Linked DNA regions of Homo sapiens. The protein of the gene in region 1 interacts with the protein of each later gene in a biochemical or structural test. Each region holds a gene or a part of one and is shown in the gene's direction. Other genes may lie near its edges.

What was found.
Region 2: the proteins of GOLGB1 (region 1) and ACBD3 interact in far-western blotting, tested with the Homo sapiens proteins (one study listed by BioGRID).

Annotation. Positions count from the first base shown.
Region 1 is NC_000003.12:121,736,376-121,751,761, reverse strand, and holds the start of GOLGB1 (golgin subfamily B member 1), read left to right. Parts: upstream 1-2,020; 5' UTR 2,021-2,130; exon of another isoform or gene 2,131-2,752; intron 2,753-15,386. UniProt on the Homo sapiens protein: May participate in forming intercisternal cross-bridges of the Golgi complex.
Region 2 is NC_000001.11:226,179,709-226,196,075, reverse strand, and holds the start of ACBD3 (Golgi resident protein GCP60), read left to right. Parts: upstream 1-9,334; 5' UTR 9,335-9,400; coding exon 9,401-9,686; intron 9,687-16,367. UniProt on the Homo sapiens protein: Involved in the maintenance of Golgi structure by interacting with giantin, affecting protein transport between the endoplasmic reticulum and Golgi. Involved in hormone-induced steroid biosynthesis in testicular Leydig cells.

The DNA of each region.
Region 1 (15,386 bases):
ACTTAAAGAGGATGTTAAAGGTTTGAATAATTGTGGCAAATAGGAGAGGAAGCTGAAGACAAGAAGGATTTGGGAGTGTGCTGAAGATGGAGTTCAGCTGGAAACTGAATGTGCAGTGGTCAGGACATTGATGTCACTGATGACATTGTCCTGATGTCTCCTGCAGCATTTTGCTCCCCAAAGGTAGAAGTAGAGACCAATGGTTGGACTGATGCAGGTTTAGGACTTTGCTGGGTGGATACAATCAGGGATATAAGAATATGATGTATTCATTAAGTACTGCAGCATTCAAATTCTGTCTCTGCCCCTCACCATGTGACCTTGTGCAAATTATTTAACCTTCTGAAGTCTTATTGTCTCACATTTAAGATAAGGATAATCATATATACTTTATTAATTTAACAGATATTGAGTGCCCTCCTCTATACTTTTCTGGGACCTGGAGATAAAGCTGAGATCAAAATTACTACCTTCCTGGAGCTTATAATCTAATGAGAAGAGAGATACCAGATAAATGAAATATATAGTACTTTAGATGGCAAAATGCTTAGGGGAAAAAGAAGCAAAGAAGAAGTATATAGTGCATGCAGGAAATTGCAATTTTATTTATGTTTGTATTGATACATATTTGTACATATTTATGGGGTGTGGTAGTTTGATATATGCATACAATGTGTAATGATCAAATCAGGGTGTTTAGGATATCTATCACCTCAAACATTTATCATTTTTGTGTTTGGAACATTTCTAATCTCCTAGTTATTTTGAAATATATAACATATTGTTAACTATAGTCACCCTACTGTGCTATCAAACACTTGAACTTATTCCTTCTATCTACGTTTGTACCCATTAACCAATCTCTTCCCTCCCTCCCCCAACTCCACCTTCCCAGCCTCTGGTACTTATCTCTACTCCATGAGATCAACTTTTTAAGCTCCCACATGAGTGAGACCATGGGATATTTGTCTTTCTGTGCCAGACTTATTTCACTTAGAATAATGACCTCCAGTTCCGTAAGATGGGCAGCCAGGAAAGGCCTTACTTAGCTGATGTTTGAATTGTGAAGTTATGTAATCATTAAGATGAGTATACATACAATGGGCCAGCTGAGTGCACAGCAAGATTCAATAAATTCAAACTAACATTACTCTTATTGCCAAGAGAGTGCCTGAAATGACAGCTCATTGGAAACTGGCTACTTTCCTTCCCTTTCCTTAGGGGTTTAAGGAAAGCATGAGTGATTTCAGTCTTTTGCTGGAGCTCCTCACTGACACTCATTGCAGAGCCTGAGCCCTCAACTCTCAATCTTTGCTTAGGTCCTGGCTTAGGCTCCACTTTGTAAGAGGCACCTTCCTAGTATTCACTACTCTCTCTCTCACAATCATGTCCTTACAGACATTGCTGATCCTCTTTCATACTGACACCGGGTTCTAGTCCGAGTTCCATCACTAAGTCGCTGTTTGACTTTGGGCAAGTTACTTCTGTGGTTAATTATTTTTCATCAACAAAATCAAAAGGTGAAACTAGACGAACAACTAAGAGGCTCCAGTATTTTTTCAATCTAAGAGTCCCATATCCCCCACTCCCTTCTCACAGCTCATTCAACAATCCTAATGGCAGCGGGTGCCCGCAGTCTCAAGTCTCTGCCGAAGCCCAAGCCGCTGTCTCGGTCAGTCACAACCGACGAAGAGGAGGAATTGGAGGAAGCCAGCATAACCACTTCACACTGAGAACATCTGACCTTTCCCAGAACGCCCGCCCACTCGACACTTCCTGTCCCTCCCCAGATCTTGTTCCGGGGCACCTACTCGCGTCTAATCACTCCCCTCATTCACTCTTTAGGGTCCATTGGCTGTTTCTTTGAGGAAGCGGAGCATCTTCTGTCGTTGATTGGTTTCCGTCATTGTTGATAGGTTGGTAACAAACAAGGTGTGCCTGGTCTCCCTGGTAACGTCCTGCCGATAGTCCTGATTGGTCGGTGTCTTAATCCCATCTTCCGTCCCAACTGCTAGTGGCTGAGTCCCTGGCGGGGCGCGGCGGTGGAAGGTGTCGCGTACGGGCTTCCCGAGCTGACGTGGCTTGAATTGGGAGGGGGGCAGCTGGAGCCTCAGGCGGCAGCGCTTCTAGGTGAGTAGGGGACGCTACCCAACTCTTCCCTCTGCGAGTCCAATAACGGTCACCCCCGCCAGAGGGGCCGCGGGAGCTGCCCAAGCAGCTACACCGGAGTCCCCTCCTCGCCCCGCCTCTCCCGGATTCAGTCCTGGATCCGGCCCTTCACCCGCCTCCTTCACCTACCAGGCCTAGTTCTAGTAGCCCACAAGCCTCGGCCTCTCCGGTGGGCCTTCGGGGTCACCCTGCGCAGACTTGGACCACTTGCTCACGGTCTGTCCCCTCCCCGGTACGTTTCTCCTCTGGGAGCGACGGGGAAAAGCGCCTAGGTCAGTCCTGTCCGCACGGCCTTGTTCCTGGAGCGGCCTGCCTAAGTCGGCCTCCGTACGCAGCCGCTGACGTCGGAAAGAACCTGCTGGGCCCCTGTGCTCAGGCCCTAAACAAACTTGGTGTCCCGAAGGGGAGGCGCGACCAAAAGAAATCAAAGGTCTTTAGGGCGGAGATCACAGAATCATTGGAGATATTAATGCAAACGGAGGCCTGTCCAATAATCCTGCTAATGCTAATGGGTTACTGGAAAGATGAGAAGAGAGGAAAGATCCCAACGATCCCGTCAACACGAAAATCCCAGGAATCAGAGGTGGGCAGGCTGTTAGAGAAAAAGGAACCTCTAAGAGAGTTCTCGAGGAAAAATAACTTGGTTTGATGGTGTGGAGTATGTTTAATCTGCACAACCGGAATGTGAAAGGGAGGGTGAGTCCTTTGAGGAATGAGGAATATATTTGTCTGACTTATTTAAAGAGCTCCAGTTGGTCTATGGGGAGCGGACAGTTTGAGAGTGGGACAGGGATATTTACAATCATGGGTAAGTACTTTCACTTTTGGAGATAGTTGGAAGCTGTCTGAGCATTTAAAGGACCTTTTTACAGTTCTGTGCAAGATGCAAGCAAGTGGAGGGCTCTTTACATAAGGGCCAGAGGCCTTTCCAAAAGCGTGAATTGATAAGATTTAGATGGTCAGAATGGTTATGAAGGGGCAAACTCAGGAAATATCCTATTGGAAAAATGGCAGGATTTGGTTTTGGAATAGATGCAGGAAAAAGTTGAAGAGTACTCAAAAGTTGCAGGCATTGTACATTAACTGCTTCATAGCTTTTACTTCTCATCCCTTGACCACAGAATGACCATTTAATGTTTTTCTTTTCACTGCATCAATATTTTTTACTACCTCAGCAGCTTCCAAACCTTTTAATTGCACTCCCTATCAGTAAAACATTTTTGAGCATGCATCTCCCCAAATGTTGTGTGTTTAATTATTTATAGTGTATGACTACCACTGTAAATATGTTGTGTATAATATGAAATATGCAAAAGTATAAACGTAAAAGAATGAAGTTTTTAAAAAGCCTTGTCCACACCTTGGGACCTCCCAACCCAATTTGACAATCACGTAAAGATACTTCCTTGTTTTTCAAGAAGGTCGTTGGCATTTCTGGCATCCAGACTCTGGGATGCAGCCTTTCTTAAACATGATCTTTAGAAGATTTTTTTCAACCTTCTGCTTGAGTTTTATAGGCCCCCTTTCTTTTTCTCCCTTTGATTAATGGATTAATTAAAGGGATGTTGACTTTATCCTTGTTTATAAAATAAATCATTCATTAATTTCTCTAGGTTAATTACTATTAGGAATACCACTGATCATTACATACCAGTCTGTGGTTAGAAACCATTATGTAAAAGGAGACTAAGCTCTATATTGCTGTATTTTTAATTAAGCTATTTTAAAATCAGCTATATGCTTTTGATAAAAGGAAATTTAATACAGAAGGATACAATGTAAAAAAAGTCTTTTTCTTTTCTATCTACTGATCTACCCATCTCCATTCCCCACTTCCCAGAAGTAAGCACTGTAAATAATTTCTTGGTTATATTTAAGAAACTTTCTGATCATAATAAAGCACATGATAATATATACCCCCTTCTGTCTTTCCCACAAGTGGAATCCTAATACACATGCTTTTGCCATTTAGTACTGTATATTAGGCACTTTCAATATCCATGGGTATAAAACTACCTCATCCTTTCCATGGCTACACAGCAGTCCTTTGTAAAAATATAAAAATAGTATTTAGCCTGTCCCCATTGATGGACATTTAGATTTTCAGTCATTAGCCATCAAAACACTGCTGTAGTGTTTTGTTATATAACATCCATGTGTATATATGTATATATATACATATATATACGTATATATGTATATATATACGTATATAGACATATACGTATATATACGTATATACACATATATATACATATATACGTATATACACATATATACATATATACATATATACACATATATATACATATATACATATATACATATATATATACACACATGGATTTTTGTTTTGTTATGTAACATCCATACATAACATGTTTTGTTATGTAACATCCATATATATATATATATATATATATATATATATATATATATATAACATCCATGTATATATATCTTAGGGCCCTTGTGTGAACCTGTCTGTGGTATAAACAATATGGAATTATTTGGGGCCATACTAATATGAATCATTTTAGTTTACTTACTGCTTTAAAAAAAAGTACTTACCTAACTATTAACATAGTGCCTTTATCCCTTCATTCTGTTTTCAACCCGAGTAAAGAATATTGGATAATGAGATTATTCAGAAAATAAAATATTTTCTGTGTATCTTCACCCACCAAGAAGCTTTGTCGAACTATGTGACTGGGGAAATTACTTAACATCCCTCTGCCTTAGTTTACTCACCTTAAAACTGGGAATATTGACGGTACTCCCTCTTGCGGTTGTTTTAAGAATAAAGTGAGTTAGGCCGGGCGCAGTGGCTCATGCCTGTAATCCCAGCACTTTGGGAGGCCAAGGCGAGTGGATCACTTGGAGTCAGGAGTTTGAGACCAGCCTGGCCAACATGGTGAAACCCCTGTCTCTACTAAAAATACCAAAAATTAGCCAGTCGTGGCAGCGGGTACCAGTAATCCCAGCTACTGGGGAGGCTCAGGCAGGAGAATCGCTTGAACCCAGGAGGCAGAGATTGTAGTGAGATCGCGCCACTGCACTCCATCCTGGGCGACAATAGTGAAACTCCGTCTCAAAATAAATAACATTAAATAAATAAATAAATAAATAAATAAATAAAGTGAGTTAAATAACGAAAAGTAAGTTATGTGTAAAGATATTGGAGCAGTGTTTGGCAGGTCACGCTGTGTATGTATGTTATAGCTACCACTTACAAATTCATTTAATTAAAATAGTGGCTTCTGCATCATGAAAAATAGTTGTTCATTTTCTAATTGTAAAATTATGTCATAATATCGAATGTGTTATTTCCAGCTATACAGCACTACCCATTAGCCCCTCAACTTGGTTGAAAATCACTTTGAGATTTAAGGAATTAAGGACAGCTACTGAGGCTTAACTAAATAAGCATGAAATAAGTTTGAGGAGTCACCTCAACTGAAACCTAACCACCTTCTCTGTGTTTCTGTGGGAAAATGTGATTTAAATTCCAAAGTAGATGGCATATATGCATATATACACAGGCATGCACTCACTGTCTTCAGTTATTTTGCTTATTTTCCTGTGCATATTGTTCTGTTTTCGGTGGCTAGGGACATGCTTTATAATTCTTTTTATATTTTTATAGTTCCTAGCATAATGCTGAACACCAGGTGGTTGTTATAAGAATAATCATTGATAACAGTGAAGACTTGGAGAAAATAAAACTTACTTAATTCTGAGTGCCACTTCAACACATAAGTGTTAAGGTCCTGTGGCAGGGTTTGTGAAAGCTGTGACCAGCATAGACTGAGGAATTGTTTTATTTGCCTTAGTGTTTTATGGAATCCCTGGCCTTGGCATGAAGCTCTGTGTTTTATTCTTTTCCTTAGTTGCTATTCATTATTTTGGTGCCTTATAAAATAACAGCAAGAACATTGTCCAACAGTCATACATATTCCTTACATGAATTTATGACTATGAATATGACTATTCCCCTTTATTAATCTTTACATATATGTATACATATACATACACGTATACATATGTATATATATACATACACGTATACATATGTATATATACATACACGTGTACATATGTATATATACATACACGTGTACATATGTATATATACATACACGTGTACATATGTATATATACATACACGTGTACATATGTATATATACATACACGTGTACATATGTATATATACATACACGTGTACATATGTATATATACATACACGTGTACATATGTATATATACATACACGTGTACATATGTATATATACATACACGTATACATATGTATATATACATATACATACATAGATTTATGACTATGACTATGAATATTTTCCCCTTTATTAATTTTTATCTATACATTTGCCCATTTCTGTCCTCAGTGAGCCTAATAGAGGGGAGTACCCATCTTTCTTCATTTAGCTTAAGCATGGCTACTTACTGGCTTTCTTGCCCTGTAGTTCCCAACCTTTGAGCTACCAAAAGCCTACAACTGTGGGTGAGATGCCCTTCCATTTACATTTCCAGATTATTCCTTTAATGTCAACAGCTGTAGAGTAGGGGGCATTAGAATGGTCCTTGTTAGTCTTCATTTTAAGATGAGGAAACTGACGCTTTAAGGTGACTTACTCACTATGATGCAGCTTCTTATTGAGCCAGGACGGAAAACTCAGTTCCTTGGCTTCCAGTTTGGTGCTCTTCCCACTATGTCACCTGCTTTCCTGTGGATCTCTGAGACTGTTGAATCAATCTATGAGAGACTCCTTTTGTCCTGCCTGAACAGTACATCTCTAGCACTCTCTCAGATTTTTATCTCATTTAAATATTAGTCTTTCCTTTCTTAAAATGTACATATTTTTAAATGGTTATGTGAGAAAAGTAATCTATTTTTCCTTTAAATAGCTTTTTGTTTTATTCTATCAATCTTTTTAATTTTTTTTTTTTTTTTTTTGAGACAAGGTCTTGTTCTGTTGCCCAGGCTGGAGTGCAGTGGTGTGATCATAGCTGACTGCACTCTCAAACTCCTGGGCTCAAGTGATCCTCCTGCCTCAGCCTCCCGAATATCTGGGACTGCAGGCATATGCCAGTATGCCCAGCTAATTAAATTTTTTTTTTTTTTTTTTTTTTTGTAGAGACAGTCTCACTATGTTGCTCAGGCTGGTCTTGAACTCTTGAGCTCAAGCCATCCTCTCACCTCAGCCTTCTAAGGTGCTGGGATTACAGGCGTGAGCCACCCTGCCTGACTGCTATTGTATTATATATTTAACTGAGGGACCTTGAAATGTCTTAATTTCTGAGTGTCAGTTTCCCTCTATAAAATGGGGATGATGATAATACTTATCTTACAGATTTTGTTAAGATTAAAGAGTATATAAAGTGGTACAGTCACTTTGCATTTAAATTAAATGTTTCTCAATTGTTGCCATTAATATTATCATTATTATCCTGTGTTCATGTGTATGTGTTCCTCATTTGCTATGATATTCAATGATATTCAGTAGGATGCTGATGGGCACGCTCCTTTCTAGGGAGGGTCAATCAGAAACTCATGTGGTAGTGGTATGGGTTTCCATAATGGATTTCATAATAATTAATGATATTTGAATTACTAGAATAAATCCACTTGGTGATAATATTTTTCAGTATCTAGTCAGATTTAGTTTGCTAATATTTTATTTAATATTCTAATTAAAATTTATTAGAATGTTGTCATCAGTATTCATAGGGAGATGGTTTGTAATTTTTCATTTTCTTTTTCTATGTTTTGGAGCAATATAAACAGCAACTTCTGTAGCACTTAGATTATCTCATTTTTGACAATTTGGTAAAGTTTTCTAATAGCAACTATTTCTGGTGTTTTAGCATTGGTGACTTATTTTATAATTTTTCCATGGAAATATGTGTATTTATAATTTGTATTCCTAGAGGTATTAATTTTGATTAACTGTATTTTTTTTATTATACTTTAAGTTCTAGGGTACATGTGCACAACGTGCAGGTTTGTTACATAGGTATATATGTGCCATGTTGGTTTCCTGCACCCATCAACTCGTCATTTACATTAGGTATTTCTCCTAATGCTATCCCTTCCCCAGCCCCCAACCTCCAACAGGTCCCAGTGTGTTATGTTCCCTGCCCTGTGTCCAAGTGTTCTCATTGTTCAATTCCCACCTATGAGTGAGAACATGCGGTGTTTGATTTCTGTCCTTGTGATAGTTTGGCGAGAATGATGGTTTCCAGCTTCATCCATGTCCCTGCCAAGGACATTAACTCATCCTTTTTTATGGCTGCATAGTATTCCATGGTGTATATGTGCCACATTTTCTTAATCCAGTCTGTCATTGATGGACATTTGGATTGGTTCCAAGTCTTTGCTATTGTGAATAGTGCTGCAGTAAACATACATGTGTATATGTCTTTATAGTAGCATGATTTATAATCCTTTGGGTATATACCCAGTAATGGGATCACTGGGTCAAATGGTATTTCTAGTTCTGATCCTTGAGGAATTGCCACACTGTCTTCCACAATGGTTGAACTAATTTACACTACCACCAATAGTGTAAAAGCATTCCTATTTTTCCACAACCTCTCCAGCACCTGTTGTTTCCTGACTTTTTAATGATTGCCATTCTAACTGGTGTGAGATGGTATCTCATTGTAGTTTGGATTTGCATTTCTCTGATGACCAGTGATGGTGAGCATTTTTCCATGTGTCTGTTGGCTTCATAAATGTCTTCTTTTGAGAAGTGTCTGTTCATATCCTTTGCCCACTTTTTGATGGTGTTATTTTTTTTCTTGTAAATTTGTTTAAGTTCTTTGTAGGTTCTGGATGTTAGCCCTTTGTCAGATGGGTAGTTTGCAAAAATTTTATCCCATTCTGTAGGTTGCCTGTTCACTCTGATGGTAGTTTCTTTTGCTGTGCAGAAGCTCTTTAGTTTAATTAGATCCCATTTGTCTATTTTGGCTTTTTTTGCCATTGCTTTTGGTGTTTTAGTCATGAAGTCTTTGCCCATGCCTATGTCCTGAATGGTATTGCCTAGGTTTTCTTCTAGGGTTTTTTATGGTTTTAGGTCTAACATTTAAGTCTTTAATCCATCTTGAATTAATTTTTGTATAAGGTGCAAGGAAGGGATCCAGTTTCACCTTTCTACGTATGGCTAGCCAGTTTTCCCAGCACCATTTATTAAATAGGGAATCCTTTCCCCATTTCTTGTTTTTGTCAGGTTTGTCAAAGATTAGATGGTTGTAGATGTGTGGTGTTATTTCTGAGGGCTCTGTTCTGTTCCATTGGTCTATGTATGTGTTTTGGTACCAGTACCATGCTGTTTTGCTTACTGTCGCCTTGTAGTATAGTTTGAAGTCAGGTAGCGTGATGCCTCCAGCTTTGTTCTTTTTGCTTAAGATTGTCTTGGCTATGCAGGCTCTTTTTTGGTTCCATATGAACTTTAAAGTAGTTTTTTCCAATTTTGTGAAGAAAGTCATTGGTAGCTTGATGGGGATGGCATTGAATCTATAAATTACCTTGGACAGTATGGCCCAGTGTGCTGTAATTCTTATTCATACATATTCAAATTATCCTTTTAGCCAATGGGAACCTGTGTCCTTTGAAAGCTTCCTATCTTGTATGACAAGATGTTTCAGGATCATTTTGTACATTTCCACTTTAGAAATGGAATTAGCCATTTCTCTAAGAAAACCTTCTTTTAAAAACTTTTTTAAAAATGGGAAAGAGTATTTCAAGACCCCAATCTAGGCACTAGAGATATTCATTGCTTCTCAGTTTGTCATTACTTTTAAGCCTTTTTGGTGGACAGAGCTAGGAAAATATGTGAACAAATATAAAATACTGAATTGTCATTTCACACTGAGTGTTCCTATTCAGATTCAAAGATTAGTTTGTATTTCGGGGTTCTTAATTTCTTCTGTATTACATCTGTATCTTCTTTTCATAACTGAAAATACAGAATTAGTGTATCCATAATTATCATTTGCTTTAATTCTACATTTCACATATAGTAATCTAGGAGTGATGATACGAATATCACCACCACAACCACTTTAGACGAGATCGGGTGTGTTCAGGATGGTATGGCCGTAGACAACAACCACTTTTAATTATTGAAAACTGTTTAAAAATATTTTTTATTTTTTGCATATGCTATTCACATTCTTCCCGATTTTTTTTCATGGTTGTCCTATATATTGTCAGAGCATATAATCATTACATACTATGCTGTCTCTCCTCCAGTCTTTACTTAGTCTTAATTCTGTTAGTAACCGTATATTTAATGCTCACCACTAGTTCTTATAATGATGTTTCTTTAGTCATTTGGATTGCCTCAAGTTTTGCCTCTAGTAAATTCTTTAGGAAAGGCTTAAGGGAATATTCATATTTCATGAATTTTCTTGCTCGTTCATAACATTTTGTCTGTGTTTTTTATATCTAAAGTTTGTGTTTGCCAGAAATAGAATCCTTGGCTCACTTTTTCTTTTCTTGAATATCTTAAATTTGTAACTCATTTTTTTTTTCTGGCAAAAACATTGCTGTTGAAAAATCTAGTGCTTTTTTTTCTTTATCTTACTGGTCATATGATCTTTTAGCCTAAAGCCTAAAGGATTTTTTTAAGTCCAGTAATTTTACTAGAGTGTTTTGTTGGTCATTCTGAGTTGACATTCTGAGGTACATTGTGGGCTCTTTCAAGATGTAGTTTCAAATCTTTTTAAAAAAAATTTTCAAATAAATATTCTTGGATTATGGTTTTTCATATTTGTGCTGTTTCTTTGCTTTGCTTTTCTTCTTCAGGGAATCCTGTTATTCACATTACTTATCTTCAATATTTATCTGTTTCTCGCAAATCCTATGTAACTCTTAATTTCTTACATTTTTTAAAAATAAACAAATTATTAGGAATTATTTCAGATCACTACAGAAAGTTTACTACAGAAAATTTGCAAAGATAGTGCAGAAGTCTGGTGTATCCTTTGCTTAGTATTCCCTAAGATTAACATGTGACATTAGCAGTGTACAAAATTAAGAAACCAACATTGGTACATTAATATTAACTGAACTCCAGACGTTGTTCACATTTCACCAGTTTCTCCATTAATGTCCATTTTCTGTTCCAGGATTCAATTCAGGATATCATGTTGCATTTAGTTCATTTCTTTTTCATTTGTTTTTTAAATATGAAGACAATTGTAGAGTCACATGCAGTTGTAGGAAATAATCAGAGCTCTTTTATACACTTTGTTGTTTCTTCCAGTGGTAACATTTTGCAAAACTAATACATAATATCACAATTAGGATATTGAGATAGATATATTCCCCAGTTTTACTTGTATATTCATTTGTATATGTATGTATGTGTATCATTAAGTTTTGCAGTGTTATATCACCTGTGTAGGTTCCTGTATCCACTGCCACAGTCAAGATATTGAACAGCTGCAACACCACAAGGATCCCTTGTGTTGCCTTGTTATGACCACAGTCACTTCCCACCCCAACCCCTCTCTAACCACTGGTAATCACTCATCTTTCCTCCATTTCTAAAATTTTGTCATTTCAAAAATGTTATAGAAGTATGGAATTGTATAATATGTAACCTTTTGGGACTGGCTTTTTTTCATTCAATGTAATTTTCTGGAGATCCATCTAAGTTGTTGGGTCCATCAGTAGTTCGTTGCTTTTTATTTCTGAGAAGTATGTGATGGGATGTATGTACCAGTTTGTTTAACCATTTGCCTGTATATATCAGTTTGCTTAACCGTCTATTAATAGAAATAAAGCTGCTATGAATGTTTATATACAGCAGGTTCTCTTGTGAACTTAAGTTTTCTTTTCTCTAAGATAAATGCTGGGGAGTGGAATTGAGGGTCATAAGGTAGTTGCATATCTAGTTTTTTAGGTCATTTCTTTTTGATTTTTAAAATTATCCTTCATTTCAACTTTGCTTTTTTTTAATGACATGGTTTGTTATATTTACTCATTTTCTTGTTCCTTCTAGTTTCATCTTCATTTCCAAAATGATTTTTTAAATTTTTCAGTCACTTCTTGTTTTCACTTTATTTCTGGGTTTTTCTATTTCTGATGTTTATTTTTTCACATCTTATGTCATTTTTAATGCCTTTTAGTTCCTTCAGTAGATTTAAGTGGTTATAGTTTTGAACTGTTTTTTTGAGCATGGCTCTCTGACGTGCTTCCATTTTCTGTCGGGATGTTATCATGATCGTTTTCCTCCTTTTTTTTCTTCTAGTAATGTATCTGAATTGTGAGACTTTTCAGTTGCTCTTTTTTTCTTTTTTGTGACAGGGTCTTACTCTATCACCCAGGCTGGAGTGTAGGGGTGTGATTATGGCTCACTGCAGCCTCCACCTCTTGGGCTCAAGCAGTCTTCCCACGTCAGCCACCTGAATAGCTGGACCTACATGCATGTGCCACCATGCCTGGCTGACTTTTTAAAAAAATTTTGTAGAGATGGGATCTTGCTATGTTGCTCAGGCTAGTCTTGAACTCCTAGGCTCAAGTGATCCTCCCACCTCAGCCTCCCAAAGTGCTAGGATTACAGGATGAGCTAGCACGCCTGGCCTCAGTAGTTCATTTTTAATATGAATTTAGTGTTGCTGAACTTTTAGAAAGAGATTTTATACAGCTTTTCTAACTTGATAAGGTTTCCTCTTGTGCTATTTTCAGACATTGTTCAACTATATGGCAGCTGGATTTCTCGGATTTCCTGCCTTTCTTTCCTTGCCACTTTCACCTGCTCTTTATCTGGACCTCCTCTTTCCTTAGTCACTTAATTTTAATTCTCCTCTCAGCAGATTCTCCTCAGTGTGGGACCCTATCCTGGAAGAGAGCCCCAACTCTTCAGTTCTGAGAATTAATAAAGGTCCAGACTGCCTCAGCTCTTTCAGCCCTCGTAGGCCCCTGGCAGGTACCTGTTATTGGAATGGGAAGACCCCTCCTTGTATCAACTACTGTTCTGTAATTGGCTTGGCGCATTTGCCAGTGAATGCCCACTGGCTCTTTTGAGGTCCTCTTGGTGTTGTACTCCTCTGGCTTCCCTCAATTTCCTCCCAGTTGAACACCAGTGACACCCAGATCTTTTGACTATTGGCGGTTTGTCTATATCCACGTTTATTTTGGGGTTTGTAGGAAACTTTGTTAAGTAGTTTTTTGGTAAAGGCTGTCCATGGATCTTTTGTTACCTAGTTGCTTTGTCTGTTTTTATGTGGGAATAAAGGAAGATACAAAATCCATGGGGCCCCTTGCTACTCCCATCTTCTCAGAATCCCATCAGTTGGTTATTTTGTTTTCTTTGTTCCAAAGTGGTCTGAAAAATCTGAAGATAAAGTGATTCTGTTTGATAAGTTAGGTTCCATTATGATTTTCTTTGATTAGCAGAAATCTATATGTTTAAGAAACTCTTTAGTGATGGTATTCATTTCCTTCATTAAAAGTTAACCAAAGAAAATATGATCTCTAAAGTTGAAAAGAAAGTTTAGAATCTGTATACTGCTGAATTGTGATTTTTTAATCCTGACTATAGCTGTGGTTCTCATATCTTGAATAAATAGTTATATATGGCCCTATGTACTCATGTATGACACTGTGTTGCCCTTCCAGTATTTAGATATGAAGTTATATATGATCCTGCGCTGCCTTCCTAGGGAACAGTTCACTTTTTCTATTTCTGTCTCACGTATCTTTTCCAAGTGATGTGCTACTTAGATTACCCAAGACAATCTATTAAAAAAACAGGTATCTCTCATCACTTCTTTCTTAAGAACCATGGCTGCCCTAAACACTATTATTATCCCCAGTAGAAGAAAACTGTAGCAGAGCCTAGTTTCATTTAAGTGTTTATTTTGTACAATAGTTTTTATATTTCTTCTTGCTGAGGTTTTTTTTTTTTTTTGAGACGCGGTCTTGCTCTGTTGCCCAGGCTGGAGTGCAGTGGTGCGAATCTTGGCTCACTGCAACCTCCACCTCTCAGGTTCAAGTGATTCGTCTGCCTCAGCCTCCTGAGTAGCTGGGATTACAGGCACGTGCCACCACACCCGGCTAATTTTTGTATTTTTAGTAGAGACGGGATTTCACCATGTTGGTCAGACTGGTCTCAAACTCCTGACCTCGTGATCCACCCGCCTCAGCCTCCCAAAGTGCTGGGATTACAGGCATGAGCCACCACGCCCGGCCCCTGCTGAGGGTTTTAAAAGCCAAATAACATTTTATCACAAAATGTAAAATTAGGCATAATCACGTAAACTAATGCTATGCATAGTCCAGTTCTATTTTGATTTTTCCTATCAAAGCATTAATATGCTTCTCATTTTCATGGACTTTATGGACTAGCAGTTGACACTGATCTGAATATGTAGCCTACACAGTGGTTATAAAAGTAAATTGATTTTGGAATAACCTTAGATTTACATACAACTTGGGAAGATTAGACAGACAGTTATTGTATACACAAAGCATCCTCTAATGTTAGCATTTTACACAACCATGGTAGCTTTTTCAAAACAGAGAACATAGGTGCAATGCCATAAACTAAACTATAGGTAGACTTCATTCAGATTTCACCATTTTTTCCAGTAATGTCCTTATTGTGTTTCAGAACCTAATCCAGGATACTGCCTTGCGTTTATTTATTTATTTATTTAGAGGCAGGGTCTCACTCTGGCACCCAGGCTGGAGTGCAGTGGTGCGATCTCAGCTCACTGCAACCTCTGTCTCCCAGGTTCAAGTGATTCTCCCATCTCAGACTACCCAATAGCTGGGACTACAGGTGCATGCCACCACACCCGGCTAATTTTTGTATTTTTTAGTAGAGACGGAGTTTCACCATGTTGGCCAGGCTGGTCTCGAACTACTGACCTCAAGTGATCTGCCTGCCTCGGCCTCCCAAAGTGCCAGGATTACAGGCGTGAGACACTGTGCCCGGCCTACTTTGCATTTAATCAGCATGTCTCCTTGTCTTCTCTAATCTGTGACTGTTTCTTAGTTTTTTGTTGTTTTTCATTACTTTGACAGTTTTGAAGAGTATTGGTCAGGTATTTTTAGAATGTCCCTGAATCTAGGTTTTCCCAGTGTTTTCTCATGATTAGACTGGGCTTACGGGTTTTGCAGAAGAATACCCCAGAGGTAAAGTACCCTTCTCATCACATTATATCAGGGGTTACATGATATTA
Region 2 (16,367 bases), on another chromosome or scaffold:
GTGGGAGAATCACCTGAGCCCAGGGAGGTCGAGGCTGCAATGAGCTGTGATTGCACCACTGTACTCCAGCCTGGGCAACAGAATGAGACCTTGTCTCAAAGCAAAAAAAAAAAAAAAAAAAAAGAGTGTTTTGGACATGAAGTCCAGAGAGAAATGATTATAGCGACTATAAAAACCATATCTTATCTATTTATCATATTTTAAAGTTTCTAGAGCACTTTCACAGAGATAAGTTAACTTAGACCTATCAACATCATGTGATGAAACTAGGGCAGAAACAGTTTCTACTTTTTACAGATAAAGAGACAGAGGTCCAAAAAGTGGGTCTCAGATTGCCACAGTTAAATGTAATGGACTCCCATTCCCTCACCTACTCTGGTTAGCTCTGCTGGCTCTATTGACTGTGCTACTAATCTCCTCTTTCTTGTCATCTCCCTACCCTGCTTCTCTTCCAGATCTCATTATTTTCACCTGGACTGTAAGGGGAACCTCCATTCTGAGCTCCCTGCTGCCAGCCTCTCCTGCAGCCTCTCCTTCATGACATTCCCTTGCATAAAATCCTTCACTGGCTCCCCACCACCTACAGGACCACCGCAGGCCAATCTTTCTAGGCCCTGCACACCTGGCCCCTGCTGGCCTCCCCAGGCTCATCTCCTATCTCTCCACCCTTGCAGTAAATGCTCCAGCCAGGGATAACTAAACATGCCAGGCTCTCTTAGCCCTCAGGGCATTAGCAGATGGTATTCCTTCTGCCTATCTGATTGTTTCCACATCCTTCAGATGTAAAGGAGCACAGGGACCAATCAGATAATTCTATCCTGTGTGGAAGCCATCCACAAACCTTCCAGACATTGTGTATTCCTCTTTCTTCTATCTTAGGGAGTTATGAATGCCTACAGTGGTGCTGTAGACAGAATGTTTACCTCTTCCTAAAACGTGTATGTTGAAACCTAATCCCCTATGTGTTGGTATAGGAGGTGGGGCCCTTGGGAGGTTATGAGGTCATGAGGGGAGAGCCCTCATGAATGGGATTAGAGCCCTTATAAAAGAGACCCCAGGCCAGGTATGGTGGCTCACACCTGTAATCCCAACACTTTGGGAGGCTGAGGCAGGTGGATTACTTGAGTCCAGGAGTTCAAGACGAGCTTGAGAAACCCCATCTCTACAAAAAAAATACAAAAATTAGCCAGGTGTGATGCAGTGTGTCTGTAGTCTCAGCTAATTGGGAGGTTGAGGTGGGAGGATCACCTGAGCCTGGGAGGCGGAGGTTGCAGTGAGATTGCGCCACTGCACTCCAGCCTGGGTGACAGAGTGAGACCCTGTCTCAAAAATAAAATAAAAGAGACTCCAGAGAGCTCCCTTGTCCCTTCTACCATGTGAGGACTCAGCCAGAGGATGGCCATCTATAAACTAGGAAGCAGGACTTCACCAGACACTGAATCTGCTGGAGCCTTGATCTGGGACTTCTCAGCCTCTCGAATGGTGAGCAATAAATTTCTGTTGTTTTTAAGCTACCCAGTAAATGGTATTTTGTTATAGCAATTCAAGCAGACTAAGACAGTGGTCAGGCAAGTAACAATATAAATTGATAGAGAGCTGTGTAAGATGATAAACCGATTTTTTTTTTTTTTTTTGAGACAGAGCTTTGCTCTTGTCGCCCAGGTTGGAATGCGGTGGCGCGATCTCGGCTCACTCCAATCTCCACCTCCCATGTTCAAGTGATTCTCCTGCCTCAGCATCCTGAGTAGCTGGGACTACAGGCACACACCACCACGCCTGGCTAATTTTTGTATTTTTAGTAGAGACAGGATTTTGCCATGTTGGCCAGGCTGGTCTCGAACTCCTGATCTCAGGTGATCCACCCACCTTGGCCTCCCAAAGTGCTGGGATTATAGGTGTGAGCCACTGCGCCCAGCTGATAAACTGATTTTTATCATTTTCTACAAAACCAAATATAGGTCCATGATAGATAGCATGGACAGTGTCTGTCACCATGGGCTGGGGGACTGTTGAGAACTTGAGAGCACATGTCTCTCCTGAAGAAGGCATTCTCTACACAACTGCACCTCATTGTTGTCAAGCACCAGTGTCAGGCCCACAGTTGCCAGATTTCTTAGTTTTTTAAGGTAAGTCATAAATCTGGATTTTTACATTAAAATTCCAGATTTTAAAATGCTAGCAACCAATTCAAATTTAAAGCATTATAGGGGCTAATTCTTCCAAGCCAAATAAAAGATACTAGTGGGTAGGCTTTATCTTGGGAGCCCCGAGTGTGCAAACTCTCTTTTACATTGTAAGGGAGCATTGTATATAATAGTGGACAAAATTTACTAAAGGCCCAGTACGTGTCAGGCTAGTCCTTTTTGCTATGTTGCCCAGGCTGGAGTATAGTGGCACGATCATAGTTCACTATAACCTCAAATATCCACTTACCTCAGCCTCCTGAATAGCTAGGACTACAGGTGTGCACCACCACACCTGGCCAATGTTTGAAATTTTTTGTAAAGACAGGGTCTCGCTGTGTTGTCCAGGCTGGTCTTGAACTCCTGGCCTCAAGTGATCCTCCCACCTTGGCCTCCCAAAGTGCTGGGTTTACAGGTGTGAGCCACTGTGCCTAGTCTCAAACAGGTCCTTTTCTATGTGCTTTACATGTACAGTATTCATAGATTCAGTCCTCTCAACAGCCTAAGAGGGGGATAGTACTATTATTCTCATTTTATAAAGGAGGAAACAGAAGTAAAGTAACTGACTCAACGTCACGAGTTGGTAAAATTCCAGCACTGGAAGCCTGGCCCTAATTTGGTGCTTTTGCCACAGTCTCACCTACTGGACCATAAACACCTTGGGTGTAGATACCACAGCACTCACCTTTGTATCCTAAAATACCTGGTATACGGCCAGGCATGGTGGCTCATGCCTGTAATCCCAGCGCTTTGGGAGGCCAAGGTGGGCGGATCACGAGGTCAAGTTCGAGACCAGCCTGGCCAAGATAGTGAAACACTGTCTTTACTAAAAATACAAAAATTAGCTGAGCATGGTGGTGCGCACCTATAGTCCCAGCTACTCAGGAGGCTGAGGCAGGAGAATTGCTTGAACCCGGGAGGCAGAGGTTGTGATGAGCCTAGATCATCCCACTGCACTCCAGCCTGGACAACAGAGCGAGACTCCATCTCAAAAAAAAAAATAATAATAAATAAAATAAAATAAAATACCTGGTATACAAGGCACTCCTTACATGTATGTTGAGCTGAACTGATATCGTACATAATAGTGTAATTACACCTTCATTCATTCACTCAGTAAGACATTCTGAACACCTACCATGTTTCCTATCCTGTGCTAGGGACTGTGGAAGTCCAGGGAAATGCCCCTTGATCTCTAAGTGCTTGCAGTCAAGGAATACAAAATAATTTTCACTACTAAAGGGTACTGCATTACTAAATAAGACTAACTGCAAAACTTTACTGAGTACTGATTATTAGTTCACCAGAAAAAGCAGGAAACAAAAAGTTGAACTCAGTCCCTGTCTAGTGATCCACGATATTTACAGAAAAGATGAAAATATGTGGAGAGAACAAATGGAAAGTCTAAATTTCAGAAAGCATTTCAGAAATGGTAAACACTTCATGTGGAAAATTATTGAATGGAATGGAGCTTAAGAAATTCACACAGCAAAGTTTGCGGATTGGAAAGTATCCTTTTTTGGCTGGGCGCGGTGGCTCATGCCTGGAATCCCAGCACTTTGGGAGGCCAAGGCAGGCAGATCACCTGAGATCAGAGGTTCGAGACCAGCCTGGGCAACATGGTGAAACCCCATCTCTACTAAAAATACAAAAATTAGCTGGGCATGGTGGTGCATTCTTCTTTTTTTTTTTTTTTTTTTTTTTGAGATGGAGTCTTGCTCTGTCACCCAGGCTGGAGTGCAGTGGCGCGATCTCGGCTCACTGCAAGTTCCGCCTCCTGGGATCGAGCCATTCTCCTGCCTCAGCCTCCCGAGTAGCTGGGACTACAGGCGCCCGCCACCACGCACAGCTAATTTTTTGTATTTTTAGTAGAGACGAGGTTTCACTGTGTTAGCCAGGATGGTCTCGATCTCCTGACCTCGCGATCTGCCCGCCTCGGCCTCCCAAAGTGCTGGGATTACAGGCGTGAGCTACCGCGCCTGGCTGGTGGTGCATTCTTGTAATCCCAGCTACTCAGGAGGCTGAGTCAGGAGAATTGCTTGAACCCAGGAGGCGGAGGTTGCAGTGAGCCGAGATCGCGCCACTGCACTCCGGCCTGGGCAACAGAGTGAGATTCCATCTCAAAAAAAAAAAAAAAAGTATCCTTTTTTTTTTTTTTAAATGAAAGCAAGTTTATTAAGAAAGTAAAGGAATAAAAGAATGGGTACACCATAGGCAGAACACCCAAAAGTATCCTCTTTTATAAAAGAACAGACATGGAGAAGATATTTGAAAGTTTTCAAAAATACACCTTTTTGATCAATCTGTGTGCCTCCTCACATATAAAAGACAGGGATATAGAAAAACAGGTAGTTGGCCGGGCACGGTGGCTCACGCCTGTAATCCCAGCACTTGGGGAGGCCAAGGCAGGCGCATCACGAGGTCAGGAGATTGAGACCATCCTGGCTAACACGGTGAAACCCCGTCTCTACTAAAAATACAAAAAAATTAGCCAGGTGTGGTGGCAGGAGCCTGTAGTCCCAGCTACTCAGGAGACTGAGGCAGGAGAATGGCGTGAACCCGGGAGGCGGAGCTTGCAGTGAGCCAAGATCGCGCCACTGCACTCCAGCCTGGGCGACAGAACGAGACTCCGTCTCAAAAAAAAAGGAAAAGAAAAACAGATAGTTGCGCTGAACTGTTTATGTAAGTTAGATTCTACTGTGACAAGTGCATTATAACAAAGATCTATTGAAAAATCTTGGGGGAAGAAGGAATTACAAAACAGTAATGGATGTTTGTTATTTTATGGTAATGGTTATACAGGTATATGCCTGTGCCAAAACTCATCATATTGTAAACTTTAATATTTGCAGTTTATTATACAACAATTATACTCAATAAAGCATGGGAAAAACACGTTTCCTAGACTTGCTATTCAAAGTGTGGTCTGTAGACAGCAGCATCGGCATCACCAGAAAGCTTATGAGAAATGTATACTCTCAGGCCTCCCTCTATACCTACTGAGTCAGAATCTGCAGTTTAATAAGACATTCAGGTGAGCGTGTCTGGAACTCATCTCCCACAGTGAACTGTTAAAGCGAAGTTATATTCTCTAATTTTTTAATTTTATTTTTTAGAAACAGGGTCTCCTTCTGTCGCCCAGGCTGGAATGCAGTGACGCCATCATGGTTTACTGGAGCCTTGACCTCCCAGGCTCAAGTGATCCTTCCACCTCAGCCTCCCAAGTAGCTGGACCCTAGGCACATGCCACCATGCCCAGCTAATTTTTTATTTTTTGTAGAGACAGGGTCTTCCTATGCTGCCCAGGCTGTTCTCAAACTCCTGGGCTCGAACAATCCTCCTGCCTCAGCCTCCCAAAGTGCTGGGATTACAGGCATGACGCACTGTGCCAACCCCTAATGTTTTTAGTCATTAAGGGCAACCACCTACACAATGGCCCTTGATGTTTCGATTAGCAAGAGGTTCAGATGCTTGGTCTAGAGGATGTTTGGGTTTTCCAACCATATTCAATATGTTAAATTACAAAACAATAAAAAAGTCCATATAATTTTTTTTAATGTATGTCTTTTTTTGAGACAGTCTCTCTCCATCACCTAGGCTGGAGCGCAGTGGTGTGATCTTGGCTCACTGCAACATCCACCTCTCAGGTTCAAGCAATTCTCCTGCCTCAGCCTCCTGAGCAGCTGGGATTACAAGTGCCTACCACCACGCCCAGCTAATTTTTGTATAAAAAGTCCATGTAATTAATTAATTACCATATTTTACCTACCTTCCTAGGTATATTCTATAGGTTTTAATAATTATTGTATACTTTTTAAAAAAATAACTTTTTTTCTGATTACAAAAGAAATGCTTATCGTGAAAACTTGGAAAACAGAATCTAGCATTTCATGAAGAAGGGTTATATTTACCCTACTCATTATCATCCCAACAGTTATTGAATGTTAAAGGTAGAACACTGAGCAAAACACAGGGGAATATATATGTATATATAACATTTTGAAGGTTAGGCACATAATATGCATATTTTTAAGCTAATGAAGCTAAATATAAAGATCCAAGCTAAGTGGGAAGAACACAGACCTTAGAGCAGTAGAATTAGAGTTTTTAGTCCTCTACAACTAGAAGTGGGTTTACCATAAAGTTAATGAAGCTCAAGCTTCAGGGCCCCTTGCTTACACAGGCCCCTCCCAAGGCCCTTAGAGCGGCCTTAGCAGTATACACTTCTGTAACAGTTTTGAGAGTAAGATATTTAAGACCTCTGTCTTCGTTTCTAACTTCCCTTCGTCATCCTCCTCTGGTTAGGAGGTATTGAAATGGCTATAGGCTTTGTGGGGGATTTGGCTAAGGGGACAATGAATAGGGATACATTTAATTTGGGGTCAGTGGCATGCATTTAAGTGGTTTGCAGTCACTTCTGCATGTTTTTAAATTATTGCTCACCATGGGTGTAGGAATGGCTTTCTGGAATATACCTACTGCCCATTATGTCAATTCAGCCAGCACCATGTCACAAAAGTGCAAGGCCAAAGGGCGAAGGAACCCTATGTTGCCTGACACAGGAAGTACTTGGGTAGTGGAGGAGCAACAAGGTTTGAAAGAAAAGAAAGAGCTAGTAAAATTCTTCCATTCTTTTTCCTCTTCTGGGGATGTTGTCTATAGGCACATAGAATGGTCCAGCGTTTGACATACTGTTGTAGGCTTTCCTACAATACAGCTTCTAATAAAACTAGGCTGTCCTGAACCCCTGGTAATATAATTGCTTACCTTTATACCAAGAAGGCTGGGAAAGCACCAAAATCTACTGTGGTGTGTACCCACGCAGACTTCAAGGGGTTCGTGCTATAAGACCCGAAGTCTTATGAGATTGTCCAAAACACAAAAAACCATGTCAGCAGGGCCTATGGTGGTTCCATGTGTGCTATATGTGTTTGTGACAGGATCAAGCATGTTTTCCTTATCGAGGAAAAGAAAATCATTGTGAGAGTGTTGAAGGCACAAGCACAGGGTCAGAAAGCTAAATAAAAAATGAAGCTTCTTTGAGTAATTAAAATTAAAAGACTTAAAAATATGCTTCCAACCATCAGAAGTGGAAGATTATAAGGAGAGGGATCAATTCTCTCAATGCCTAATCAAAATGAAGGTTCTCACTCACTGAGAATCTAAGTCATATCTGCAATTATAACTGCACCATACTTCATGTTTTTATGTGAAGCATGCAAAAGGGAATAGATTAGAAACCCTATGTTTATGGGACAAAAACTTATAGTTGTACTACAGTGAGTCTGTCTGTATGTGAAGTTATATGTCTTATCCACCGTAATGAATGAGATCCTGTCTGAATGCAGCATACAAATCTTGTCCTGAAAAAAACCCTCGGCCAGGCGCGGTGGCTCACGCCTGTAATCCCAGCACTTTGGGAGGCCGAGGCGGGCATATCACAAGGTCAGGAGATTGAGACCATCCTGGCTAACACGGTGAAACCTCGTCTCTACTAAAAATACAAAAAAATTAGCCGGGCATGGTGGTGGGCACCTATAGTCCCAGCTACTCAGGAGGCTGAGGCAGGAGAATGGCGTGAACCCTGGAGGCGGAGCTTGCAGTGAGCCAAGATCGCGCCACTGCACTCCAGCGTGGGCGACAGAGAGAGACTCCGTCTCAAAAAAAAGAAAAAAACTCTCTAGGGCTTCAGTAAAAACCACACACAAAATTGTCACTGAAGCAGCCAAACGGCCATAAAAATCTCATAGCACATCCATGAAACTTGAGAGAGGTTTCCCAAACTGAACAATAACCCTAAAAAAGTACGTTAACAATATCAGTAATGAGTTGTGATGCTGAAATAAATTTATAAACAATTATTAAGAAACAAATTTAATCAGCCATGCTGGAGAAAAGACTGATCTTTCTCTTTTCTTTATAGAGAATTACAAAATACGCCGGGCGCGGTGGCTCTCACCTGTAATCCCAGCACTTTGGGGAGGCTGAGGCGGGCAGATCACATGAGGTCAGGAGTTTGAGACCAGCCTGGCCAACATGGGGAAACTCTGACTCTACTAAGTTTACAAAAATTAGCCGGGCGTGGTGGTGAGCACCTGTAATCCCAACTACTTGGGAGGCTGAGGCAGGAGAGTTGCTTGAACCCGGGAGGCAGAGGTTGCAGTGAACCGAATTGCACCACTACACTCCAGCCTGGGTGGCACAGCAGGACTGTCTGCAAAAAACAAAAAAAAAAAAAAAAAAAAAAAGTTACAAAATAATTGTTATAGGAAAAGGCAATCAGAAGTACGCAGCCAAAACAAAGGTGGGAAAAATGATCATAAATGGTGCTCCCAAAGTCTGGAAACACAGGTGAATATACATAATGTCGGGGGCGACTTCAATCTTTTAGAAAAAAATAGGTTTCTGGGCTCTCAGACGCCCTGTAGAAGAATATCAGGCAGTCAATGAAAATATTACGGTTATGTGTGTGATGTTTGTGGGTTTTATTAACTTTTAAAATATCATTTGTTTTTTCTTTCTCTTTCTAAATATACATTCACTTTCCTACCCTTCTGCGCGTAACTTTTTGTACTCTTTCCTAATGAGGGTCCCCACAAATTGTATGAGCTGCGCTTCCTGCAAAACCAGGATCAGCCCCGTCTGCAACCTCAAAGTCACTGAATTTCTCTGCAGTCTCAGTTTCCCCTTTTAAAAAAATTGGGAATTTGCCCTGCATTTCCTTAGAGTTGCTGTGAAGGCCAAACGAGATGGTGGTGGGCAAAAGAGCTCTGCCAACCACGCAGGCCCCTGCAAATGTGAAGGGCCTCTGACCTGGAGGGTTGGGTGCTGGCCGACCTCGTCAATCCTCCCTACTCCGACCCCCGCGCGGGGCTCCACTGACCCCGCCCCTGCTGGGCACTGACAGCCGCAGCACCGAACCGAGCGGTGGGGGTGGTAGCACCCGCCCACCTGGAGCAACTGGGATCCGAAAGGATGGGGTGCGGGGGAGGGGAGTTCGGGACCAACGGGAGTTGGGGAGCCTGAAGGGTGGTCGCTGAGCCAGGGCAACTGACGATTCCGGAGGGGGTGGGGCGCCAGGCCTCAGCCCCTCTCCCGGAGCCCTCCAGCCTCCTCAGCAGCGGAAGTTCCGGTGTCGGTAAGCGGAGGTCAGAGGTCAGCAGGAAGTCGATACGTGGCTGCCGTCTGTCCCCGCTGAGGAGGTGCAGCAGCCGGAGATGGCGGCGGTGCTGAACGCAGAGCGACTCGAGGTGTCCGTCGACGGCCTCACGCTCAGCCCGGACCCGGAGGAGCGGCCTGGGGCGGAGGGCGCCCCGCTGCTGCCGCCACCGCTGCCACCGCCCTCGCCACCTGGATCCGGTCGCGGCCCGGGCGCCTCAGGGGAGCAGCCCGAGCCCGGGGAGGCGGCGGCTGGGGGCGCGGCGGAGGAGGCGCGGCGGCTGGAGCAGCGCTGGGGTTTCGGCCTGGAGGAGTTGTACGGCCTGGCACTGCGCTTCTTCAAAGGTGAGCCGGGCCAGCCCCACCCCCGCCGCTTCTGCCCGGCCCCGGGAGCCCGGCGTGGGCTGTGGTCCCCAGGGTGACTGGACCAGACTTGCCCTCACCCACTCATACTGGGCTGTGGTGACTCAAGCGGGGTTCCCTCCTTGGGGGTACCCGAAGTTTGTCACTACCCGCTTGGCCACTAGGTCACACCCCTGACGGGCCTGCAACCTTGGTTTAGCAGTCATGTCCCGCCTCCCAGAGGTTACCGGGACATTTTACCTGATTTAGCTTCTGGGATTTCCAGGAGCCCTGGTGGAAGAATGAGCCCACTTTCTTCCAAAGGATCCCATTCTGGGATTGCCTTTTATTATTATTATTTTTTTAACTGACGCTTTTCTTTTCCTATTTCCCATGGCTTGTCACATCAGAACCCGCCGATTTTTACCCTTAGTGGAAGAAATCTGTCAAGAGGTTCCATACATAGCTTTTCCAGCCATTCTTGGGAACCATAAACTGGAACAGGACTTGATCCCCCGGCAGATTGATGTGGCAGAGAGGAGGAAGTAAAGTGTTAAGCTCATCATCCTCTCCGGCTTGTCAAACTCTTGAGGAGAGATGTCCACTATGTTCTAGTAACTTCTAGGTGGTTAAAATTTTACATTGTAAGCAATGTGCAAGAGTGAATTCTCAGAGTAAGGCCTAACAGTACCTTCTGTGCTTTTCGCATAATTAATTGTTAAATGTCTCTTGTCTTAGAGCAAGATTGTAGTGTGCGGTTTTTTTTTTTTTTAATTGGGTGATTCACTTAGTCGAATGGTGGAGAGACCAATCACATGATTTTTGTCAGTGGGAAAAACTGATGAAAGCCCGTTAGTTTGATTCTTAAAGATACTTAGTCTTGTAGGGCGAATGGACAGGGAGGGACATCAGCAAATGCAACTTTAAAAGTGGTTGCTAGGTTCCACGTACATTCCAGAGCAGCATATTTATGACACTTTCCCCAGAGGGAGTACCTTTTGGAGTACATATTTTACTAGCCAAAGTTGAGTAGTTCAATGTAATGATACACACGGAAGTTGTTTTCTCTCAAAATAACTTTAATTGTGCAAACTAGTGAAAGTTTTATAAATTTTCCAGAACATTTGATCATTTCACATTCAATGACATATTCGTGGTCATTGCACAATGAGTTGAGCCCTCTGTGTACTAACTAGCTTGGGGAATTGGTAATGGCTAATGGGTTTTGGATCATTTGACTTTTAGATCACCGGCTTGAATTTAGAGTTTGCTGTAGTGATGATATATTACCACTTGATAAAAATCAGGTGGTTTCTGTACAATTCATATAGCTACATTCCATCTTAAATTTTTATTCTTGGAACTTATTTTTCAGTAAAGTATATTGTAGCAGAGAGTAAGAGTAGAAATGAACTAATTCCTTTTTTTTTTTTTTTTTGAGCTGGAGTCCTGCTCTGTTGCAGGACTGAGGGAGGCTGAGGCAGGAGAATCACTTGAACCCGGGAGGCGGAGGTTGCAGTGAGCCAAGATGGCACCATTGTACTCCAGCCTGGGCGACGAGCAAAACTCCGTCTAAAAAAAAAAAAAGAATCGCTTCAATATGGGAGGCAGAGGTTGCAGTGAGCCGAGATCATGCCACTGCACTCCATCCTGGGCGACAAAGTGAAATTCTGTCTCAAAACAAAGAAAAAGATTAAAACACTGTAACGTGTAGTATACTTAACATTGTTTGGAGAGTCAGGAAGCTCTGGATTCTAGTTACCTTGTAAACTAGACAATTAACTTTTCCAGAATCAGTTTCATATGTATAAAGGGAGCTGGATTCTATAAAATATGATGTCTCAGATTTAAGATTCAGTGGTCTTAACCTAACAGATTATTTTAACATGTGTCTTGAGTGGTAGGAATCCTGGGGAAACTTATAACTTGGGGCCTAGGTGTTAGTCACCTTAGAGAATAAAGCTACACTGATAGGTGTGGTTCACTCACTTCCTAAATGAAGTTCTCAAAGCAATATCCAGGTACTAAAAAGGAGAAATAGCTGTGTAGCAATTAAAAGCTACCTTTCTGCATGTGTCATTGGAGACTGTTAGTATATGAGACACTAACTGACAAAAGGGAAGGATGTAAAAGCAGTCAGAAGAATTATGGAATGTGGAGTGAGCCAAGTAATGCTGCCTTTGTTTTGTTTTTTGTTTTTGAGATAGAGTCTCACTCTGTCGCCCAGGCTGGAGTGCAGTGGTGCCATCTCGGGGCTCACTGCAAGCTCCACCTCCCGGATTCACTCCATTCTCCTGCCTCAGCCTCCCGAGTAGCTGGGACTACAGGTGCCCACCACCACGCCCGGCTAATTTTTTGTATTTTTCGTAGAGACGAGGTTTCACCGTGTTAGCCAGGATGGTCTCGATTTCCTGACCTCGTGATCCTCCTGCGTCAGCCTCCCAAAGTGCTGGGATTACAGGTGTGAGCCACTGTGCCCAGCCTGGTTTTTTTTTTTTTTTTTTTTTTTAGGCAGAGTTTGATTCTTGTTGCTCAGGCTAGAGTGCAATGGCGCGATCTCAGCTCACTGCAACCTCTGCCTCGAGGGTTCAAGTGATTCTCCTGCCTCTGCCTCCCGAGTAGCTGAGATTACAGGCATGTGCCACCACGCCCAGGTACTTTTGTATTTCTAGTAGAGACGGGGTTTCTCCATGCTGGTCTCGAACTGCCGACCTCAGGTGATCTGCCCACCTTGGCCTCCCAAAGTGTTGGGATTATAGGCGTGAGCCACCGTGCCCGGCACCTTTGTTTTAATGTGTGGATTTTTCTGGTGGAACACATGGTGTTTTGTCAGTCTTGCTGGGACTTTTAATCGCTATTCTATGGTTTTATACCAGTATCTCACGAGAATTAGAAATAACATTACATTTTCGGCCGGGTGTGGTAGCTTTTGCCTGTAATCCCAGCACTTTGGGAGGCCGAGGCGGGTGGATCACAAGGTCAGGAGATCGAGACCACCCTGGCTAACACGGTGAAACCTCATCTGTACTAAAAATAAAAAAATAAAAAAATTAGCTGGGCGTGGTGGCAGGCGCCTATAGTCCCAGCTACTTGGGAGGCTGAGGCAGGAGAATCACTTGAACCCTCAAGGCGGAGCTTGCAGTGAGCCAAGATTTCGTCCCTGCCCTCCAGCCTGGGCAACAGAGCAAGACTCCATCTCAAAAAAATAAATAAATAAAGGAAAGAACATTACATTTTCTCTTCCACTGTGGAATAAATACGAATCTTGAAAGCATGGATATATTTTTCCATTGCAAATAGCTTGGGTTGGAAATGACAAGCCCTATTTCTTATTCCATCCTTGTCAGGGTGGTAATAGGCCAGTGACTGAATCAATTACGTCAACTATTCTTAATTTTTTATGACAGTAAAAGTAAAATAGATGAAGATGTGGGTAAATGTAAGTTAGCATTTTACCATCTAAATTTCAGACATTATTGACTTTTCAGTATGGATAGTTTTATATTAGGTTACAACTATAAATGAATAGTACGTTATCTTTTGCTTAGAGTCCAAAAGAGGAGTTAAGGACCCAGTGACAACTGCAGTACAGTGTGGAGGACTGAGGGAGCAGATGCCATTCCAGAGGGGGGAAGGCCAAGAGCCATGAAAGCCATGAGAAGTCAAAGCATGTCTGTTTGCAAAATGGAAAATAGAAAGCAGTTTGATGGAGAGAGCTGGGAAGGTAACTGAGTTCAATTCTTGGAAGGACTTGCATGCCATTGTCATTTTTTTTTTCTGAGACGGAGTCTTGCTATGTCACCCAGGCTGGAATGCAGTGGCATGATCTCCACTCCCTGCAACCTCTGCCTCCTGGGTTCATGTGATTCTCCTGCCTCAGCCTCGTGAGTAGCTGAGCTTACAGGCTTGTGCCACCACACCCAGCTAATTTTTGTATTATTAATAGAGATGGGGTTTCACCATGTTGGCCAGTCTGGTCTTGGACTGACCCCAAATGATCTCCCCGCCTCGGCCTTCCAAAGCGCTGGGATTACAGGCGTGAACCACCGCGCCTGGCCATGTAAGTATTAATAGTTCGGCCTTTTTGTCAGTAAATTAGAAGATGAGGAACCACTGGAGGTTTTTAAAGGGAGGAGCAAAGTTGCTCAATTCTTTTTTTTTTTTTAGACAGTCTGGTTTTGTTATGCAGGCTAGAGGGCAGTAGTGCGATCTTGGCTCACTGCCCCCTATGCCTCCCAGGCTCAAGCCATCCTCCCACCTCATCCTCCTGTGTGACTGGGACCACAGGCACGAGCCACCATGCCCGGCTAATTTTTGTATTTTTTGTAGAGACAGAGGTCTTGCTTTGTTGCCCAGCTGGTCTTTAGCTCCTGAGCTCAAGCGATTCACCCGCCTTGGCCTCTCAAAGTGCTGGGATTACAGGCATGAGCTACCACGCCCGGCCAGAGTTGCCCAGTTCTATTTTAACAATGTTAAGCTAGGTTTTCTTATCTCCATGGGTTAAGGACCCACAGGAATCCAGTGGGTTCATTTTATTATGACCTTTATACTTCTTGGATGGAGTTGACCTGGGGAATTGTATTTTGGTTTTTAGAGTTCTTTGGGGTGGACTTTTCCTTCTCTAATACTTTATTACTGTATTACATTAAGCTGGTAGATTGTTTACATTAATTTAAGATTTCAGAGTAATAATTGTCAATAGTTATTGAGTAGATGTTTACTAAATCTCAGGTACTATGCCAAAAACTGTATGTACATTATTTTGTTTAATCCTCCAAGAGGCCTTCTGTAAGGGTATTAATCCCATTTCTGAGTTAAGGATCCTGCCTCAGGCCCCTCAGTTATTTGGAAGGTAAGTCTTGGACTCATTTTCTTTATGGAATAGTTCTACTAGCATTGCTATTGATTATACCCAATTGTGTTACTGATAGTAGAGTATTATATGTTGGGAGAGAATTATATTAATGATAGCAAACAAATGGACAACTGAAATGGTTCCATTTCCTCTTGTCTTCTTTAAACATAGGCAACTACAAGAGCATTTATAAATGGCTTCCTTAATGTTTTAAAATACTGTACAGCTGTAATTTATTCATTGGAAACATATATAATTAGTGTGCCTCCTGGACTTCAGTGGTCTATCCTCAGATAATTTCAAGTTTGTTACTATGGAACATCTATTAGAGTTCTTTTTCCCTTTTATTATCTTTACCTTTAGACATAAGTATGTAATACTGTAGGAGGATATATAGACCTAAGAGAGACAGATGTAAGACAGAAAAACAATTATAGCCACCAAGTTCATGTTAAATTTGAGCTGAACCAAAACTTTCCTTTGACTGGATTCAGGAATGTGTATGTGTTGTTGTTGTCATTGTTTTTTTTTTTTTTTTTGAGATGGAGTCTCATTCTGTCACCGAGGCTGGAGTGCAATGGCGCGATCTCAGCTCACTGCAGCCTCTGCCTCCTGGGTTCAAGCAATTCTCCTGCCTCAGCCTCCCGAGTAGCTGGGATTACAGGCACATGCCACTACGCCCAGCTAATTTTTGTATTTTTAGTACAGACAGGGTTTCACCATGTTAGTCAGGCTGGTCTCGAGCTCCTGACCTCAGGTAATCCACCTGCCTTGGCCTCCCAAAGTGCTAGAATTACAGGCGTGAGCCACTGTGCCCAGTGTGTATATGTTTTTAATGTAAGTGATTTTAACATTTTCCCGAGGCTTCCCTTTATCACACATGCAGTGCACTAAAGTACACAAATACTAAGTGTGTAGCTTGATGAGTTTTCAGAAAGTGGACAGTGTAGCCAATGCCCAGGAGCAGATGTTTTATCAGTTAACTAATACAAGAGCTACTGTGAATCAGTATTTAGAAAGGTAAGCTCTGGAGTCAACACTCTTTAGGGTGTGTTTTCCTTGCTCTGCCACTTAATTTTGTTAACTTTTTGTGCTTTCCTGTACTCAAAGGGTTGTTTTAGGAATTATAAGAAATTATATATATAAACTCTTAGCAGAATGCCTGGCTATTGGTATTTTTGTGGCTGCTTATGTTGTTGAAAAGGAGGTACTTCTGAGAATTGATTATGGATGTTTTGAGTTAATGGAGGGGAAGTCTTAAAACTTTTACTAAGCAGTTAGTATATGCTAGGCAATTCCCAGAGTGTTTCCTACTCATTGATTTAGGAATACTGCATTGTATTATCCTTTTTTTTTTTTTTTTTTGGGAGACAGAGTCTTGCTCTGTTGCCCAGGCTGGAGTGGAATGGCCCAGTCTTGGCTTACTGCAACCTCCGCCTCCTAGGTTCAGACTATTCTCTTGCCTCAGCCTCCCGAGTAGCTGGGACTACAGGCACGTGCCACCCCACCCAGCTAATCTTTGTATTTTTAGTAGAGACAGGGTTTCACTATGTTGGCTAGGCTGGTCTTGAACTCCTGACCTTGTGATCCATCCACCTCGGCCTCCCAAAGTGCTGGGATTACAGGCGTGAGCTGCTGCACCTAGTTGGTTTTTCAGTTTTAATATTTGGTTTTTTTTGGAGACGGAGTTTCACTCTTGGTGCCCAGGCTAGAGTGCAGTGGTGCGATCTCAGCTCACTGCAACCTCTGCCTTCTGGGTTCAAGCGATTCTCCTGCCTCAGCCTCCCAAGTAGCTGGGATTACAGGTGTGCACCACCACACCCGGCTAA